Linked DNA regions of Homo sapiens: region 2 is linked to region 1. Evidence: fine-mapped expression QTL. Tissue or cell type: whole blood. Region 1 holds a variant in brackets; the other region holds the start of a gene. All regions are shown on one strand. Distances are from middle to middle.

The links. PIP is the estimated chance that this variant, and not a neighbour inherited with it, causes the effect.
Region 2: it holds the start of NKTR, and the variant in region 1 is fine-mapped to the expression of NKTR in whole blood (INTERVAL, PIP 0.97).

Annotation. Positions count from the first base shown.
Region 1 is chr3:42,616,746-42,627,290 of GRCh38, forward strand. It overlaps NKTR (natural killer cell triggering receptor), which reads left to right. Exons shown (of 17, transcript NM_005385.4): 3 at 825-899; 4 at 2,275-2,382; 5 at 2,919-2,963; 6 at 4,684-4,771. It overlaps ZBTB47-AS1 (ZBTB47 and NKTR antisense RNA 1), which reads right to left. Exons shown (of 3, transcript NR_125400.1): 2 at 7,019-7,067. Among named protein-coding and RNA genes, the nearest start is that of NKTR, 21 kb to the left of the region's middle. The variant T/A (reference allele first, on the strand shown) is at 5,706.
Region 2 is chr3:42,594,658-42,605,202 of GRCh38, forward strand. It overlaps NKTR (natural killer cell triggering receptor), which reads left to right and starts at 6,029. Exons shown (of 17, transcript NM_005385.4): 1 at 6,029-6,121; 2 at 6,327-6,407. The coding sequence starts at 6,350. It overlaps SS18L2 (SS18 like 2), which reads left to right. Exons shown (of 3, transcript NM_001370300.1): 3 at 1-2,277. It also overlaps a transcript of SEC22C not described here. RefSeq lists a silencer at 6,123-6,332.

The sequences.
Region 1 (10,545 bases):
GATGGGGAGTATTATTTTAAGAGTCTTGCTCTGTCACCTAGGCTAGAGTGCAGTGGCACAATCAAAGCTCACTGCATGATCATAGCTCATTGCAGCCTTGAAATCCTGGGCTCAAGTGAACCTCCTACGTCAGCCTCCCCAATAACTACAGGCATGTGCCACCATCCCCCGCTAATTTTTAAAATTTTTTGTAGAGACAGGGGTCGTTCTGTGTTGCCCAGGCTGGTCTCAAACTCCTGACCTCAGGCAACCCTCCCTGCCTCAGCCTCCCAAAGTGCTGGGATTATAGGTGTGAGCCACCATGCCCAGCTTAAAATGTGAATTTTAAGTGTGATTGGTGCAATTCAGGAAGGTGGCTCTTAACAGTTCTTGCTTAAAGGAAGAAAGCTGAAAATAAAGAGACAGAGATGTTTCTTAACAATACTGGCCAGAATTACTGTCTTTTGATGTACTCTCATCACTGGAAGGGCCCAAGCATAAATCAAACAACTATTGAGAGTATTTTTAAAGAAGATTTATAGTTCAGATAGGGAACTATACTACGAGGAATCTAATAATACAAAGTTCCTTTAAAACACACTTAAAATCCTATAATTTTGGGGCTGGAACCAATTTGGCTGCATGTAAATTTTAACAATAACAAATAAAATGGTGTTCTTGTTCATAGGTATCACCCAGTTAAATGCTTTCCCATTACATCTTTTAAAAAATTAAAATGAATTACAAAAATAGACTTTCTAATTTGTTAGCCCTGTTTCTTTCTCCCATTTAAATGTGATATATTTAACTTGCTTACTATTTTTTTCCTATGTATTTTATTTCAGTTGGTCGCATTATGTTTCAGCTCTTCTCAGACATATGTCCAAAAACATGCAAAAACTTCCTTTGCTTGTGCTCAGGTAAGTGAATTATTATTTCCAATGAGAAGCTGTGGCTTACAGTTTTACCTTGCTGAACAGAATAGATATTTTCCTGGAAGAATAATGGACTCGTGAAATTAGTTTTGTGAATTAAAAAAAAAAAAGAGTTACTTATACTGACTTTTATATGAAATCAGGGAAGCATTTCTTAAGGGGAAGAGATTAGAAAGGAATGATCTCAAAAATGAAAAAGAGAGTAAGAATCTACGTTATATAATGGAATCTTCTCTATACATTTTAATTTATAAAATAATAGCACACATTCAAAACTGATTTGGTAGAATTTTATGAATTTCACTACTTTGAAAAAATTTAGTATTCCAAATTTTACAATAAATTTTAAATAAATAGAAAAAATGGGGAGGGAAACATCTATAATGTTACTTTAAAATTAGAACAAACTGGCCGGGTGCGGTGGCTCAAGCCTGTAATCCCAGCACTTTGGGAGGCCGAGGCAGGTGGATCACCTGAGGTCAGGAGTTCAAGACTAGCCTCGCCAACATGGTGAAACCCCGTCTCTACTAAAAATACAAAAATTAGCCGGGCGTAGTGGCAGGCGCCTGTAATCCCAGCTACTCAGGAGGCTGAGGCAAGAGAATCACTTGAACCCGGGAGGCGGAGCTTGCAATGAGCCAAGATTGCGCCATTGCACTCCAGCCTGGGGGACAAGAGCCAGACTTTGTCTCAAAAAAAAAAAAAAAAAAATTAGAACACACTGAAATTTTAAATTCTTACTTGGATACACATATGCAATTTTTGCACTAACTCCTTGATTTTGTTATTTATTTATTTGGGACGGAGTCTGACTCTTGTCTCAAAAACAGGCTGGAGTGCGGTAGTGTGATCTCAGCTCACTGCAACCTCCACCTCCCAGATTCAAGTGATTCTCCTGCCTCAGCCTCCTGAGTAGCTGGGACTACAGGCCTGTGCCACCACACCTGGCTAATTTTTGTATTTTTTTTTTTAGAGGCAGAATTTCACCCTGTTGGCCAAGCTGATTTCAAACTCCTGACCTCAAGTGATCTGCCTCGGCCTCCCAAAATGTTGGGATTACAGGCGTGTGCCATTGCGCCTGACCTCATTCTTTGACTAGAGTGATAAGTGTGTCTAGTATTATGTCCTATAGCATGTAGAGTCTGTACCACACAATTTTACATTTACATGCTGCTTTGGATTATTTATTTTGGTTTGCGTGCATGTGTGTATGTTAAATTATCATGTCATCTATTTCTTATATCTCTTCCAGTGCCTAGCACACAGGAAAGATTTGACACAGGATTAATTGGTTTGTTCTTTCCATGGAAGGATGTATAAATAATTAAACTTCATTTCTTTTTTTTTTTTTTTTTTCCAGGAGAGAAAGGCCTTGGGAAAACAACTGGGAAGAAGTTATGTTATAAAGGTTCTACGTTCCATCGTGTGGTTAAAAACTTTATGATTCAGGGTGGGGACTTCAGTGAAGGTAGAGCTAAAAGTTGTGTTCCTAATAACTCCATCTATCAGTTTTTAAAGTATTTCATTATTACTTTTAGTTCTAAATATTGTGTCAGTTACAGTATGATATAAAATGTGGTCAGTGAATACTTGTTGGATGAGTGAATATTATAGGTCCAGAATGTATGAAAAAGCAAAGTACCACGTAAGACATTTTATTTTGTTTTTATGCAGTTTATTTTATTAATATTATAGTTACTTAGTGAATTCCTTTACAATGAATGCCAAAGTACTGTCTGATTGCTTTTGTTCTGGAATGTTTTTGGTGTTATTACTGTTTGAAATAAGTAGGTTGTGAAGATGACTTTTTTGATGGTATTTCTTGTAATGGGACTTGACATATATTTTACAGATGAAGTTAATTGAGGACTCTGAGAATTTTGATTATTGCAGCAGTTATAACATTCCAAGGTTTCCTTCAGCGAATTGAAGCTATCAAAAATGATTTCTGTGTTAGTATATTTTTAATGTTCATTATGGCTTAAAGTAGGTGATTATTTGCAGGTAATGGAAAAGGTGGAGAATCAATTTATGGTGGATATTTTAAAGGTAAGGCTTAATATTTTACGGTCTTTTGTTTCAGTTCTGATATTAAAGCAAGTTTGATCATATACTTTTAATGAGAAGAGGTTTACTTATAGTTCACTTTTTGCATGAAACTAATGCTGCATGAAAATACTTTATTTGCATGAATTTGGGGATAAATTATATTGTAATATATAATTTTTAATTGACAAGATTAATTAAGGCTAACTTTATGGTTAAACATGACTTTCAGCATGGAGGTTAGGCAACTATATACATGAAAACTCCTATCTTCCTGCCTAAAACTGTCAACATATTCTTTTGTTTATAGAGAATGTGGTCTTTTGCAAAATGAAAAGGTAAGAGAACGAAGCTCAGTAACACAAACTCCAATTCTGTTCCCTTGCACCCTTCCTAATAAATTTATGGACAGTCTGGGTCAGGTTGTGGCTGGATTTCTATATTGCTTGAAGACTTGGAAAATTCTGTGTATTATTTCATACATGCTTCTGTATCTTTTTTCATTTCCCAATGGGTTATTAATTTCACATCAGAGAAAAGAGTCTAGTTGTGGGGTTTTTTTTCCCCTAAACCAAGCAATTTCTTTGAATAAAAGTTGAAATTTCGTTTTTCAAAGGTTTGTATGTTTTCTTTTGTATATTAGAACTATGACTGTGTTTATTCTCATAATAGTAGCATCTGCATAAATCTAACTATTGCACTTGCCCCAAAAAGCCTTAGAAAAGTCAGTTGCAGAGATTTGTAATGAAATCTAATATTACTAGGTTTTAACGCTATAATAGCTTCAGTGTTATAATAGTCTTTTATATTTCCTTTGGGGGAAAATGGATTACTACTCTTTTTCAGAAGCCTGTTCCCAAGGTAATCACTTTTTAAAGTTTTCTGTGTTTCTGTTTGTTCTGAAGAAGATTTGTTTGTATGAATGTTAAAAGGACATATAAGTTAGTTTTCAAGGATATTCCTGCTGGAATTAAAATAACTCTAAGTGATCTTTATCACAGATTTTTTTTTCCTTTGAACTAGTAGGAAACAGCTATTTAGCTGGTTCTGTTATGTAGCAATTTAAAACTAATGCTGTAGGCCACTTTGTGGTTGTTCCTTGTGGCAGATACTTTTGTACCTTAAAATTGTATTTTGCTATTTAAATTTTTGTTTCACAGGGCTTTCTTCCTTAGATAATTTTGTGATACAATTGAGTATACACATACTTAATTTAGATATGTTCCTGTAACTTAATATAACATAATTTTTTTGTCTTACAGTCTAGCTTCAATTAAGTTGAATAATAAATTTACCGTATAAAAATTAAACACCTAAAAAGATTATTGAACTTCTTCCATGTATAGCACATTAGGCAAGCTAATTGGAAATTTGGAGGAAGTAAGCTAGAGATTTTTCTAAAATTTTATTAGTTTTCCCTGAAAGTTAATAATTTAAATATCATTTAGCCAAAGTATGTTACTACTAAAAGTGACTGTTCTAAGGCTGTTTGTGTGAAGTATTAAATATATGTTCTTTTCCTCAAGGCTTTAATTAGTATCTTTTGGCCTTTTTATGCTTTTGTTATTTGATTAGCTTAAATTTTTCTTTTCTGAGTGTTCAGTCAAGTTATCTGTACTGACCAGAAGAGGAATTTCATCTTTTGCTTTCTATTTATTACTTGAACATTACTTTAAAGTGACTTATAATTGGAGACTGACAAATTTGTGTTTTCTTCAAACAGATGAAAACTTTATTCTCAAACATGACAGAGCGTTCCTTTTATCAATGGCAAATCGAGGGAAACATACCAATGGTTCCCAGTTTTTCATGTGAGTAGGCATAATTCAGAGATGAGCTTTTCTTAAACAGAGAAGCGCTGTTCATAAGAAAGATGGTATAGTTAAACCAAGTTTAATGCTAAAATTCTGTCAGCTTTATTTTTATTATTAATTTCTAATATCATAGTAACTTATAAGGTCTAACAACTGCCTCAGCATTCAGCATATATCCTGAATTGGAAGAATGGGACTTAAAAAATTTAAAACTTATACATTGTTTTCAAAATATGCCGTCATCTTCAGAAAAGATGACGGCATATTTAAGCCCCTGTCAAATTCGAGTGCTGACTTTACCAAAACTAGATTGGAACATAAACTATTGATGAACATGTAAAAATTGTTCATAGACGAGTATTCAGTTACTGTACCCCCTCAACAGGGAAAGCAGTTTGAGTAAACCATTGCATGGTTGTTTTTTCCTCTTACTGTTGCTCTTTGAGGCAATTTTGAGAGAGGTACTATTATTTTCTGATGTTGTATAGAGATAGGTGACCTGCTGTTGAGCGAGCATTTTAAAAAACTCATTTTATGAGGTCTCCATGCATAATTGAAATAACCCAATGTTGCTGTCATTTCCACCAAAATTTATGAGATTGTCACTCAGGAAACTTAAGAATACTAAATTTGCTTTTGAAAAAGCAAATATATTTACATGGATGTGCATTGCACAACCAAAAACTTACCTTTTTATTATCTGAAAATTCTAAATAAATCCTTTGGCATACTTTTAGTTATATTCTTATCTAAGGCTGCTTCAAAACCTATTTTTATCATAATTCTATCATATAAAATGTGAAAGATAACTGTCCAGCATGAGGGTTATTGCTTTTGATTGGAAGTGAATCTCAGTTGTCCTATGTATGTTGGAGAAATATTTCATTAATAATTTATTGAAAACATTTTCTTTGTCATCTTTCTGAATGAA[T/A]GAGTATGAATGGCGCTTCCCTGTCTTTAAAGGAGTATATTACTGACATACAAAACTCAAATGTTAAATTTGTCTGAAAAATATATTTCTACATGATCTGATAAAGTTCAGATAAGGGGCATTCTGTTCCTAAGAATGTCCTAAAAATGGAAAGCTGATAAAAGATTATGCTTAGAATTATACAGGTAAAAGACCTACAACAGTTGTTCTCTTGTTTTGATCCCATAGGTTATTTGTTATTACTCTTCTTTAACAGAGTGATTTTCTATTCTTAACCTTCTTAAGAGCCAATACAGAGTAGAAAGAAATATTTTCAGAAAGCCTTTTTAATAGTAACTTAATGTAAAAATTGTTTATCCTTTGGTTGAGGTTTCCCATTTCCATTTTTAAGCTTATCTGAACTGTGAACATGAAAAACGTAATGATTCATTGGTCAAGAAGCTACCATTTGAGGGCTCTAAAGTTTCTTTTAGATTTCCTTTTTTATATCAGTACAATTAAAATTTGATTTATCAAGTAGCAGCAGCTTCTTGATATTGTTACATACATTAGCTTGTTCATAAAATGTTAGAGTTAAAACTCATTAAAAATGCTATCGTTAAACATAAACTAATTAAAATTCAGTATACGAGATTCTCCCTTCAAAAACATCTTATTTTTATTTTATTTAGTACTTGCTTCAGTGTTTTCTAGGAATATCTAGTAAAGGCCTTTACTGTTTTCCACATGGCCTAATTTTATATTGGACTACAATTTTTGAGAAGGAATGCCAAATACAAAATTTTGAATCAATAAATTACAATTATAATTTTTATACTTATTTTCAAAGTTAATTTACTTTAGATGGCAGTAAAATCACTGAACTTCTGATTGAAAGAAAATTTTTTAGTTTGAAATTTCCTTCTGGAAAGGGGTTTGCAGTCCCTTTGGAAAGGAGTAAGCAATCCTGGAAGTAATTGAGTATTTAATCCTCCTATATTTTTTCTGAAGATTTTTGTGTCAGTATACTTTCTTTATGCTGGCTAGAAAGATCAGTTCTCAAGAGTTGCAGGATAAAATCAAATTAACTTTCATGTTTCAGAACTAAAACATATCCTTGCATTTATGGGAAGGATAGGTAAAAATGGAGATGGTGGCTGATAAAATAAAAATCTTTGAAACTATGTTTTTACAAGCCCAAAGCCTTTTGGAGTTGAAAGTATTAAAAAAAAGTATGATATGCTATCTTCAGGTTATGTATATGATCACAGATAATAGCTCTGATGGTCACAGAGCTTGCTGATGGCTTCCAAAGGATGGCTCCTGCCTTTTACCTTGTTACCACAGCTCCTCATAGGGCACTTTGAGTGGCAGTTCTGGAATCTGAAAAAGAAAGGATAGTGTAAGAATGGTGGTAAAATAAAAAGAACTGTCTTTATAGTTCCTGCTTTATAGGCTCAATAAGGATTTTTAATACATCCTTGCAAAATTGTTTTTGTAGTTTTTGTTACAAATCTGTTACTTTGCAATTCCTAAGGAGTAGATTTGGTGCTGTTAGTATGGGTATTTGCAAGACATCCCTCAAGGATTCTTATGTTTTGTGCATTAACTACTGTCTTCATTACTTACACATCTAAAAACTCCCCCTTCCTTAGGCATATGTCATTTTTATTCAACATAATTTTGCATATATTGCTTTCTTTGGCTGGAACAATTATATACATGATGAAAATCAGATTTTCTTCTATAAATCTATTTGTAATTTTTACAGTAACTTTATTTCTAGTACTGTATTTGTCATAATGATTTTGCTCTCGGGGGTCTATATAGAAGAAAACTTGATTCTTTTTGGAATAGTACTGCTCAAGAAATGTGGAAGAAGTGATATATGGCACTATACCCATGAATCACTAAAGAAACAGTGGTTTTATTTTGAACATTTTTGAAGAAATTCAAAGATTTGGGACTAAAGTTACCAAGTTAATTTGGTATTTATTTTGTCCTTTGTATTCTTATTTTTTAGGTTAAAGAATAGGAAGAAACCACAATAAAAGCTGGAATTATAAAGTCATAGAGTGGAAAGGGATTTAGAGATTATCTAGTCCAACCTTTTCATTCTGTAGATTATGCTAAATTCTTGAAAAGTCATGTAAAGTCCAGGTTATAGAAATTTTATTTACAATCTGGAAGAAACTGATAGCTAGAAAAAGAATGCTGCATACTTATTCATATTATTAATGCCTTTACTATAAATTTAAGCTTATTTAAGCTCAAAATTTTATTAACCACTCTGCTCTGAATTTATTTTAGTTAAGGATTAGAAGCATCAAACATTTTGCTGGAAAACAAAATGACATTTGGGGAAACATTCTTTCCCCTTTTGCTGTTACTGATAGCTTATTAATTCTGGCTGTAATTTTTTTGTCTTTATATACATTAATCAAAAAGACAAAGATGTTGTATAAAATAGTCATGAAAAAGATTGAGTAAATAGTTTATAGCTTTGTAGTAACTTCTGGGATAGGACACTAATATAGCTGTCAGGAAACCTTGATTTTAGTTTCCTATGTACCTTCAGTTCGTTTTTCTTAAACATTGGTATAAAAATATGGATGTAAAAGGAAGAAGGTATTTTGTAGGGTAGTTGTAAGTTCCTGAATGTGTGGAATGATTTATGTGCAAACATTGTCTTGCCTAATGGAAATAGTCATAATTGCCTAGTTTTCATTAGTCTGAAAAATGTCTTAAAGAAGTATTGGGCTCATCTTAAATCAAGAGCAACAGAAGTCTCTTCATCAGCTGCTGTTAGAACATGAGTCTGCGCAGCCATAGAGTAGGGATCTGCAGACCCTGCAAGAACAGTTCCTGTCACTGGCCACTGTCAGTGGTCATTAATAATTATAACAATGTAAGAAAACAAGATAATATAGAAGAGTCAAACTTTGAACTTTAAACAAAACATGTTTGCTACATTTTAACAGTCATAAATAGGGCAATGGGGGGGCGGGGCATAAGTTTTAGAATATGTTTTATGTCATTTAAGAATCTGACTTGCAAGTACCTGAATGGGAGAGAAGTGCTGATTATTACAAAGTAGTGGAGCAAGGAGAGTTGAGGAGTAGTTGGTTTTAAGGGGTTTGTAAAGCTGTGTTGATGTTTTGGGTAATAAAACTAGATTCGGGGTAGAAATGCTTTTTCTACCCACGTATTCATAAATTTATGTAAGAAGAAATGCTAGTAAGTGTTAATAACCTGAGAAGCTCTAGCTTTTTCCTTCCTTTTTTTGGGGTAATACCTTCATATGTTAATTTCAGATTTTTTCATGAGCAAAGATGTTCGTGAAACTTAGCCATAAACCATATTCTCTGAATATCAAGTGTCATCCCTAACATTCAGGCTTAATAACTTAATGTTTATGTGACTTACGTGCTAGCAATGTGGAAGAAATTTTTTATCTAGTAATGTTTGGTGTGTATTATCTTAACATTAGTGCTGAATTTTAGAAAGCACTTCTATTTTGGTGACTTTTGGAACACATGGGTAGAGCATTGTCAAGTGGCTTGGTTAGTTTCCATTACCCTTATACAAGTGTTGTCATTCTGTACAATTTGGTGCCTCTTCCCTGACAGTGTGATAGTTTCAGGAGTTGAAGGGAAAGCATTGCATGTTAAAAGCTAAAGTGGACAGAAGTTATCTTTATTTCCCTCTTCTGTACTACTTTACACCTACAGTCACTTATTTTTTTTTTTTGCAACATTCATTGAAAACTCCACATTATTTCAAACATTATGTTCTTTTTTGACTTATTCATGTTGTCAATGCCTTTATGATAATTTTAAGCTTATTTTTAAATATTTCAAGATTTATTACATTCAAAACTCTTATAAAGCATTTTGTTCATGGTATAATAGTATTTTGATCTGAGTAGTAATAGATTTATTTGTTTAAATATAGATAAAAATTGGTCAGTGTGTGTTCTCCAAAAAAAAATCTTGATAATGGGGAAAATCAGAGATTAGACAGGAAAAGAAGATATTGTGGCTAAGATTTGACTGCACTTACGCTTTCATCTCTCTTGCCTTTTTATTCTCTGAGAAGGTCCCTAAAATTGTAGTTAATGCTGCTTTATTATTATGTTCAGTGACTTAACTTCAATGTGTATCTAATATCACTGAACAGTAACTAGGGTCCGAACATTTGCTCATTAACTCCTGAAAGTAGTCTGTTGTGATACGTCACCAAACAAAGGTTTCAAATGTAGAAGCATGAAAGGTTCTTTAATTATTTGATGTGAATTAGTTAAAAGTTCCTTGAAATTTTATTTTGGATGATCTTAACTCACTTTTTTCTAATGAAATTTTTGCTTTCAACTGGTAGTAACTGGTCCTGGGCATTCAGATTTTTATATTTATGTATGTATGCAAGATACACTATTCTCTTTTGAGAAAATGTTGTCTTAGCTAATTTCTGGGATTTGTGAAAGGAAATGTAATATGTTAATAGCTATTATTGGCACTCTATGTTACAATATTAAGGATCTAAATAGATTCCCACTTAGCCACGATGCTTTTCTTAAGCATAATTCATCTCTACGTAAATATCCCATATGAAAGAAAATTTAGAGCCCTCCATTTAAAAAAGCTTTCTTGCTCTGCATAAAACTTGAAAATAATTAATTTCAAAGTTATATTGATATTAAAACATAGATTCAGTCTTGTCTTAAAAGTGTATTACAATTTATTTCTTGCCATTTTTGTGTAAAATTTACAGAAAGAGTGTTACACCGTGCGCTCCAAAGGTAATGTCTCATTACTCTAAGGCTCTCTCTCTCTTTGCCTTTATCTCTTTAATTCTGTTGTTA
Region 2 (10,545 bases), 22 kb before region 1:
AAATGTGAAGAAAGCTACTAACTTAGCTGTATTCTCATGTAAATATTTTTTAAATAATTAAGCAAATCCCTCAATAAGTTGAGCCCAGGTGTCCTCTTTCCTGAACTTGGAGCATGTTTGGATAACAAAGACATCACTGGGATGTTCAAGTCTACTTTTTAGTTTCAACCTGAAGAGGAAACTCAGTAGGTGTTGGGCAGGAATTGGTGAGATTCCTGACTTGATACCTTGCTAAATGGACATGTAACTGTGTGCTCCTTCCTATCAGTTTGTAAATGTGGTCCCCCTGACTGCTGTTTTCAGATTGCTTTGAAATAAAGCTTATTTTTCTATAAAATACTGATGTGGAGGTATAGAAGTTTTCATGTAATAAGTATTCCATTTGGTTTTCAAGAATAACTGTGAGGACTTAACCATAAAGTATATAAAAACAATACTATTATCATTGCCAACAAAATGAATAGTGATTTCTAATTATTATCTAATATCATCTGATAATAGATGATGTTTAATTTTCTTCAGTTATCAGATAGTCTTTTTGTTGATTTGTCTGAACCAGAATCCAAATAAGATTCACATGTTGTATTTTGTTGATGTTCCTTTAAGTCACTTAAAGAATACTTAATAGTTCCTTTTTTTCTTTATTTGTTGAAATAACTAGGTGTTTACCCTAGAATTCTCTCGTGTTCTACATACAGTTGTATCTCTGTAGTGTTGTTAATTATGTGCCACTATCATCCACTTTTCCTGTAAACTAGTAGATCTAGAGGCTCATGCAGACTCATGTTCTAATATTTTTAGCAGGAATATATTAGAAGGTGATAAGTACTTGCTTTTGCATCACATAAGGAGTGACCTGACTTTTAAGTTCCCAACCAGCCTTTCACTTAAATTATGATCCACCCAGCTTTGATGTGGTAATTCATTAGGGATTACATAATGAGGATTTTCTAATTTATCATTCTTTCTGACTTTATTAGCTGTATTCTATAAAAAACTTTCACTCTTGGAGATTTATCTGAAAGATGAGGCAAAGGGATTCTTGTAAGTATATCCAAAATTAGAAGCCCAGGTCCCTGCTCCTTTTTTTGGAGTCAAGGGTTGCAACCTAGGGCAACTGTAAAATACATGTAAATAGTGAAGAGATAACTCATTTTGAATCCCAGCTCTATCCCTTAACCTCTGAAAGCTCTGTTTCCTCACCTCTAAAGTGAGGATAATGAAAATAGCATCTGCCTCCTGAGGTTGTGAGACTGAGATAACGTGGTTGAGAACTGGGCACATGTTAATCTATGTTAGCACTAATGTGCTGAGGGCTCTGGCTCTTTCTTTTTTCTTTTTCTTCTTTTTTTTGGTTTTGTTTTGTTTTGTTTTTGTTTTTGTTTTTTTTTGAGACGGAATCTCGCTCTGTCGGAGTGCAGTGGTGCAATTTTGGCTCACTGCAACCTCTACCTCCTGGGTTCAAGTGATTCTCCTGCCTCAGCCTCCCAAGTAGCTGGGATTACAGGCATGTGGCACCATGCCTGGCTAATTTTGGTATTTTTAGTAGAGACGGGGTTTCTCCATGTTGGTCAGGCTGGTCTCGTACTCACGACCTCAGGTGATCCACCTGCCTCAGCCTCCTAGAGTGCTGGGATTACAGGCGTAAGCCACCGCGCCCAGCCGATCATTTCTGTTTTCTAGAAAATTATTTTGTCTGTTTCCCCACTAGCATTCCTGATGGTTTTCCAGAGTCCTATCCCCTGAAGTTCTAATTGCTGGCATAATCACACTCTAAAAGGCTGAACCCCAGAATCATTACCTGAAAATTCGTACTACCAGTGGTTCTTCTTCATGATAAATCATGGACAAATTAAGCCTGAGTTTGTAAACTCTTTGGATACCAACTTTCTACCACTCTTGGAAGAGATGGAGGAGGTGTCAGTCATTTTGGTTGATACTAGCCCTAGGCCTGCCTTGTCCCAGGAGTTTCTTCACCTTAATCACAGACCAAATTGCATACTTTTATCTTCGAATCATCTAAAATATAATTTCAAATCACAAGACAGAATAAAATAATCTTTGAGAGAGGCAGAACCTTAGAAAGGAGATATTTTATCTCATTTATTTTACAGATGAAGAAAGTAAACTTCAGAGAGATCAAAGTGATTTGTCTCAGGTCACATAACCAGTGGCAGAAAGAAGAGAATTGCTGGAATGTCAAGATAAGAATGAATTCTAGGTTTAAAGTTGTTTAAGTATATCCCAAATTAAATATTTCATTCCTGAGCTCTAAAACCTATTTACATTGAAGCCTGATGTCCTAAACACGGTAATTACAAAGCTGGGTAATGGTCTCCATCCTTTCCTTTCATGAATCCATGTATGAAAGTTAGCTTTATCAAACTATTTCATCTCCAGAAAGGCATGTACATTTCATACTGTTCAAGTCTGTAATTGTCAGCAAAATCAGACCCAAGACCGCTAGCTTCTCAATTCAGCCTACAGACTGCTCCTCTAATAGACACACTGGACTCTCAGGGAGGTAGAATGGGCAAGCTCTAACAAAGGACAGCACTTCTGTGATGGTGTGGAAGTACCAAAGGTTTGACTGTACTTTAAAAAGGTGACATGGACGGCTGGGTGCAGTGACTCATGCCTGTAATCCCAGCACTTTGGGAGGCCAACGCGGGCAGATCACAAGGTCAGGAGATCGAGACCAGCCTGACCAACATGGTGAAACCCTGTCTCTACTAAAAATACAAAAAAATTAGCCAGGTGTGGTGGCGTGTGCCTGTAGTCTCAGCTACACTGGAGGCTGAGGCAGGGGAATCGCTTGATCTCAGGAGGCAGAGGTTGCAGTGAGCCAAGATCGTGCCACTGCACTCCAACCTGGGCGACGGAGCGAGACTTTGTCTCAAAAAAAAAAAAAAAAAGGTGACATAGGTGCAGAAACAGGTCAGAAATGATCTAAGTCAAGCTTGTCCAACCCGCCACCCAGGGGCCACATGTGGCCCAGGACAACTTTGGGTGCAGCCCAACACAAACTCATAAACTTTCAAGAAATATGAGATTTTGTTGCAATTTTAAGCTCATTGGCTATTGTTAGTGTTAGTGTATTTTATGTATGGCTGAAGACAATTATTCTTCCAATGTGGCCCAGGTAAACCAAAAGATTGGACACCCAATCTAAGTGAGCCCAATTTCCAAATTTACTATAAAACTACATTAATTAAAACAGTGTGCCACTTCACATCCATTAGGATGGCAATAAAGAAAACCAAAAAATAACAAGTGTTGGTGATGATGTGGAAAAATTGGAAACTTTGTGCACTGCTGATGGAAATGTAAAATAGTGCAGCTATGGAAAACAGTATGGTAATTCCTGGAAAAATCTTAAATGGAATTAGCTTATGATCCAGTGATTCCATTTCTGGGCATATATCCAAAATAATTGAAAGCAGGTTTCAAAGAGGTATTTGTACACCCACATTCATAACAGTACTATTTACAACAGCCAAAAGGTAGAAGCAATCTAAATATCCACTGACATATGAATGGATAGACAAAATATGATATACACATACAATGGAATATTATTCAGCCTCAAAAAAGGAAATTCTGACATGCTACAACATGGATGAAATGGAAGACATGCTGAGTGAAATCACCCAGCTACAAAAGAACAAATTTTTTTTTTTTTTTTTTTGAGACAGAGTCTCGCACTGTCACCCAGGCTGGAGTGCAGTGGCGCAATCTCGGCTCACTGCAATCTCTGCCTCCCGGGTTCAAGTGATTCTCCTGCGTCAGCCTCCTGAGTAGCTGGGATTACAGGTGCCTGCCACCACGCCCTGCTAATTTTTTGTATTTTTAGTAGAGACGGCGTTTCATCATGTTGGCCAGGCTGGTCTCGAACTCCTGACCTCATGTGATCCACCCGCCTCAGCCTCCCAGAGTGCAGGGATTACAGGTGTGAGCCACCGCACCTAGCCTACAAGAACAAATATTACATGATTTTACTCACATATGAGTAGACAAATACTAGAGTAGACAAATTTACAGAGAGAAAGTAGAAGGGTGGCTGCCAGGAACTTGGGAAAAGAGGGAAATGGGGAGTTACTGTTTAATAATACAGAGTTTCAGTTTTGCAAGATGGAAAATGTTCTGTGGACGGATGGGAGGTACTGAGGGTTGTACAACCGTGTGAAATACAGTTAATGCCAGCGAACTGTACACTTAAAAATGGTTAAAATGGCAACTTTCACATAATGTGTATATATATCTATAGATCTATAGATATCTAGATATCTGTAGATCTATAGATCTATAGATAGATTTTTTTTGTTTGAGACGGAGTCTCGCTCTGTCACCCAGGCTGGAATGCAGTGGACCGATCTCGGCTCACTGCAAGCTCTGCCTCCCAGGTTCACGCCATTCTTCTGCCTCAGCCTCCCGAGTAGCTGGGACTACGGGCGACCGCCACCACGCCCGGCTAATTTTTTGTATTTTTAGTAGAGAAAGGGTTTCACCGTGTTAGCCAGGATGGTCTCGATCTCCTGACCTCGTGATCCGCCTGCCTCGGCCTCCCAAAGTGCTGGGATTACAGGCATGAGCCACCACGCCCGCCCATGTAATGTGTATTTTATAGTTTAAAAAAAAAACTTATAAAATAGTGTGGTACTCAGACACAGATCATTGGAACAAAAATCCAGAAACAGACCCACACATATATGGTCACAAGGCGAAGGTAATTCAATGTATAAGAGTCTTTTCAGGCCGGGCGCGGTGGCTCACGCCTGTAATCCCAGCACTTTGGGAGGCCGAGGCGGGCGGATCACGAGGTCAGGAGATCGAGACCATCCCGGCTAAAACGGTGAAACCCCGTCTCTACTAAAAATACAAAAAATTAGCCGGGCGTAGTGGCGGGCGCCTGTAGTCCCAGCTACTTGGGAGGCTGAGGCAGGAGAATGGCGTGAACCCGGGAGGCGGAGCTTGCAGTGAGCCGAGATCCCGCCACTGCACTCCAGCCTGGGCGACAGAGCGAGACTCCGTCTCAAAAAAAAAAAAAAGAGTCTTTTCAACAAACGGTAATGGAACGACTGTATATCCCAATAGGAAAATGTTGACACTTACTTGACAACATAAGCAAAAATTAATGATATTAGATCATATCATAGACTTACACGTTAAAGACTATGTAAAACATATATGAGAACACAGAATATCTTCAAGAACTTGAGGTAGGCAGAGATTTCCTAGCACAGGAAAAGCACAAACCATTAAAATATAAAACTGACCAATTGACTTAATCAGAATTAAAAACTTCTTTGCCAAAAACGTCAAAACAATGAAACGACAGGCCCAGATTGGGAAAAAGACTTCGCAATCATTTATGTAACAAAAGATTTTCATTCAGAGCATACATATATCTAACAAAACATTTGTATCCAGAACTGTTAAACACGAAGGACCAGATTTAAAAACGGGCAGAAGACTGGAACTGAAACTTCACAAAAGATGCAGAATGGTCAGTAAGCACAGGACAAAAACGGTGCCAGTGACGCTGGTGCCAAAGCGGGAAGGAACGCATTCTTCAGCCTAAAAGACCTAACAGTAGGACACGGACATAACCACTCCCGGCCAAAAAGAACACAGAGCAACACAACGTCTTGGCTAACGAAAACTCAAAGCCTCAATTCACTCAGTTCCTTCACAGCGCTCGGAAACAGAGAAGTCTCGCGGTATCGGAAAATGCGCGGCGCTCACAGCCACACCTGACGAGATGGAGGGCGCAGGCGCATCCACGGCTTTCAGATTGGGCGACTGACTTCAAAGGGGGGGGCAAACAGGGAACGCGCAGGTATAGGAGCGCTGGCTGGAGGCTCCTCGAGAGCTCCCCAGACACGCCCCCGTGCGTACGCCCCCGTGCGTACGCCCCCGCTGCCGCCACCTTCGGTTGACCACCCCCATCTAGACTGTACTCTCGCGGTATTTGTCCCGACTCTCGCGGGGTTTAGCGTGGCATTGGGAGGCCCGGCCTGGGGGAGGAGACGGCGTTCCGTTAGCGGCGTTGGGGTTTGGCTGCAGTGGCAGTGCTTTCTCTTCTGCTCACGGGGACCCGCTCAGGCTGGAGGCCAGCCAGGTGAAGAGCTCGCCCGCATGCGTGCGCGCTGCGTGGGAGCCGCGAGGCCCGGGGCGGGAGGGGGCCTCGTCTTGGCCTCCTGCGCTGTCGCGACGGGCCGGCGTGAGGCACCGTGGCGCGGACTTCGTCTCAGCCCCGCCCTCGCCCCTGCCCTCGCCCCCGCCCTCGCCCCTGCCCTGACCGCTTTTCTCCCCCTCTCTCCCAGCTCTTGCCGCCACCTCGGTCGCGATGGGGGCGCAGGACCGGCCGCAGTGCCACTTCGACATCGAGATCAACCGGGAGCCGGGTGAGCTGGAAACTGGGGAGCGCTGCTGGGGCCGAGGCCTGCCTTGGCGAAGGGGAGGGGTCTACCCTCAGCAACCCTCCCCCGGCCTTTTTGGGAGCGGGTAGGAGGCGCAGGCAACTTTCCGTTTTCTCTTGAGAGAAAATCAGTGGGAGAGGAAGGTGGCCTGGGCACACCCCTAACTCGCAGTCCGGGCCTCTTCCTGCCAAACCCCACACACCCCGCTGCATCTCCGGACTGAGTCCTCGTAGCCAGCCTGGCGCCAAGAAAAGGAGGTGCAGTTCTTTGAGGACTTTTTCTCTCCCAGTGTCTCCGTGAGGCAGACACTCCCGATCCGATTTCCGGTTATCTTGCTTGGTGCTATGAAGTTTCAACTAGTAGGAAATATTGTGTGTTTCCTAATCACGATATATCACTAATATGTTAATTTTGCCTCTATTTTTCCTTAAGAATCTTTAGCTAGAATTTCGTGGTTCCTGGGAAAATGGCTTAGTGAAGATCTTTTGTGATAAACCAGAGCATTTTGTACCAGCAGAATTGCAGCATGCATGCACTTAGCATTAATGTTTGTCTTTAGGGAATCCAGACATTTGTTAGTGTATTTTTTTTAAATGAAACATTTCCTTCTAAAGCATAGTTATTTCATTCTAAGTAGCAGAGCGTGCAGGGTTTCAAACTGTTTTCTTAGCTTTTTTTGTTATCCGTGACAAAAGTTTTAATTGGAGACATATATATATGTGTTGTCTTTGTGCAACATCTTGTTCTGCATATTCTTATGAGAGCCTGCTACTGTTCTAGGGTCTGGAGATAGAGCAGCGCATAAAACAAAGGCCTCTTCCTTTTATAGTTTATATTCTATTGGGGGGAAGACGGACAACTAGGAAAAAAATAACAGTGACTTGTAGTTGGGATACTATTTTAATAAGTTGGTCAGACAAGGCCATTTTGAGAAGATGAGATTTAAGCAGGTATCAGAAGGAGATGAAGTGAGCCGTATTTAAGAAGAGCATTCGTGGTAGAGGGAAACAGCACAGCCCTGAGGTGAGGAGTAGTATACAGTCAGGCGCCAAATGACATTTCTATCTTTAACAATGGTCTTATATATAATACCTTTTTTTGGTAACTTTTTAATGTTTAGCTGTGTTTAGATATACAAATACTTCATTGTGTTAAAGTTGCCTACGGTATTCAGTGGAGTAACATCCTGTACAGGTTTGTAGCCTAGGAGCAAATAGACTATATAGCTTAGGTGTGTAGTAGGCCGTACCATCTAGGTGTGTTTAAATACATTCCATGATGTTCACACAATGACGAAATTGCCTAATTACACATTTCTCAGAATCCGTCCTGGTTATTAAACAATGGAGGACTGTACTTGCATGTTTGAGGGACAGCAGGGTGCCCAGTGTGGCTGGAGTAGAAGAGGAAAGAGAATAGTAAGAAATGGCCTGTAGGACTGACTCAGTGAGGTAGGAAGATATTAAAGGGTTTCGAGCAAAGGGATGAGATAATCCTGGAAATTTGGTTGCCTTCTCTCTCTTTTTAATGTTTTTAGCCTTGATTGATCTTTTTTTTTTTTTTTTTTAAATAAGTGTTACTAGAAAGCCTTGATGGACCTTAATCTTTATTTTGTAGTGAATCCATGCTTTAGATAACAGGGTTATTTTCTATTAAGAATTAAAAATAGCTCACGCCTGTAATCCCAGCACTTTGGGAGGCAGACGCGGGTGTATCATTTTGAGGTCAGGAGTTCGAGACCAGCCTGGCCTACATGGCGAAACCCCATCTCTACAAAAAATAAAAAAATTAGCTGGGCATGGTGGCTCTCTTAGTTTTTGCCTGTAGTCCCAGCTATTTGGGAGGCTGAGACTGAAGGACTGCTTGAGCCTGGGAAGCAGAGGTTGCAGTGAGTAGAGATTATACCACTGCATGTCAGCCTGGGTGACGGAGTGAGACCCTGTCTCAAAAAAAAAAAAAAAGAAAAGAAAAGAAAAATAGTAGATTGCTGAAGAGTAGAAGTATGACCAAGCATGGTGGCTCATACCAGTAATCCCAGTACTTAGGGAGGCCCAGGCAGGAGGATTGCTTGAACCCAGGAGTTTGAGACCAGCCTGGGCAATATAGCAAGACCCTGTCTACAAAAAACAATTTTTTTTTAATTAGCCAGGCATGGTGGTGCTCACCTGTACTTGGAAGGGTGAGGTGGGAGGATGGCTTGAGCTCAGGAGTTTAAGGCTGCCATGAGCTATGATTGCACCACTGCACTCCAGCTTGGTCAACAGAGCAAGATCTTGTTTCTAAAAAAAAAAAAAAAAAAAAAAAAACAGCTTAAGAAAAAGTACAAATAAAAATTTCTGTAGTTAAGTACTCCTTTCCTAGTAAATGTTCAGATCCTAGATTTGCACATAACCTGTGTTGTGAAAAATCTCCAGAATATGTTTGACAAATGTTCAATGAACCTCATTCCTCAACATCCAAGGCAATTCATTGTGATAGATGTGTAGATGTGATTAGCACTCTTGAGAACGCCGAATCATATAAAACAAGGAAATGCAATGCTTACATTGTTCTAGGTTTAATCATTTGATAGTTGGAAATTTCATATGGTTCAGTCTTGTGAAATAACTAGCACTTTTTGAGTATATTAACTAAATAGTGGATTTTACACAACTTTTTTTTTTTTTTTTTTTTTGAGGCGAAGTCTCACTTTTTCACCCAGGCTGGAGTGCAGTGGTGCCATCTCGGCTCAGTGCAACCTCCGCCTCCCAGGTTCAAGCGATTCTCCTGCCTCAGCCTCCCTAGTAGCTGGGATTACAGGCATGTGCCACCACCCCTGGCTAATTTTTTTGTATTTTTATTAGAGACAGGGTTTCATCATGTTGGCCAGGCTGGTCTGAACTCCTGACCTCAAGTGATCCGCCCACCTCGGCCTCCGAAAGTGCTAGAATTACAGGTGTGAGCCACGGTGCCTAGCCTGTGGTTTTTATTAAAGAAATTGGTGCATTTTATCTAAGTTGTCAAGTTTATGTGCTTAGAGTTGTTTGTCACAGCCTCTTTTAATATCTGTGGGGTCTGTAGTGGTGTCTCTTTTCATTCCTGATATTGATAATTCTTCCTTTTGTCTTTTTCCTTTGTCAGTCTGACGAGAGGTTTATTCATTATACATTTTCAGAGAACCAGATTTTGATCTGATTGAATTTTGTTTCTATTTTTGTTTTCAATTTCATTGTTCTCTTTCTTTCTAATGCTTGCTTCAATTTTTATTTTGTTCTTTTTCTAGTTTCTTAATGTTGAAGCATAGATTGTTGATTTGATACCTTTTTTTTTTGAGACAGTCTCAAATGACTTTTAATTTAATTCCATTATGGCTAGAGAACACACATGATTTCCGTTCTTTGTGCACTTGAATGTACATTCTGCACTTGAATGTACATTTTTGTGTAGTGTGTTCTATAAATGTCAAATCCAGTTGGCTATTAGTGTTGGTCAATTCTTTTATATCTTTGCTGATTTTCTACTTGTTTATTGATTACCAGGAGAAGAGTATTGAAGTCTGCAACTATAACAACTGTAATTGTGGATTTATCTATTTCTCTCCTTTTTTTTTTTTTTTTTTTTTTTTTTTTTTTTTTTTTTTGAGACTGAGTCTTGCTCTGTCGCCCAGGCTGGAATGCTGGAGTGCAGTGGCATGATCTTGGCTCACCACACCCTCTGCCTTCCTGGTTCAAGTGATTCTCGTGCCTCTGCCTCCCCAGTAGCTGGGACTACAGGTGTGAGCTACCATGCCTGGCTAATTTTTTGTATTTTTAGTAGAGACAGGGTTTCTTCATGATGCCCAGGCTGGTCTTGAACTCCTGGGCCCAAGCAATCCACCTGCCTCGGCCTCTCGAAGTGCTGGGATTACAGGCATGAGCCATCATGCCCGGCCGTATTTCTCTTTTAAGTTCTCTTAGTTTTTGCATCATTCATTTTGAGGCTCTTAGGTGGGTACATACATATTTAGGATTGTTGTCTTCTTAGTGAACTCTTTTATTATTATGTAATGACACCTTATATTCCTAGTAACTTTCCTGGCTCTGAAGTTTCCTTTGCCTCAGATATGAATATAGTTACTTCCGTTTTATTAGTGTTTACATGGTAT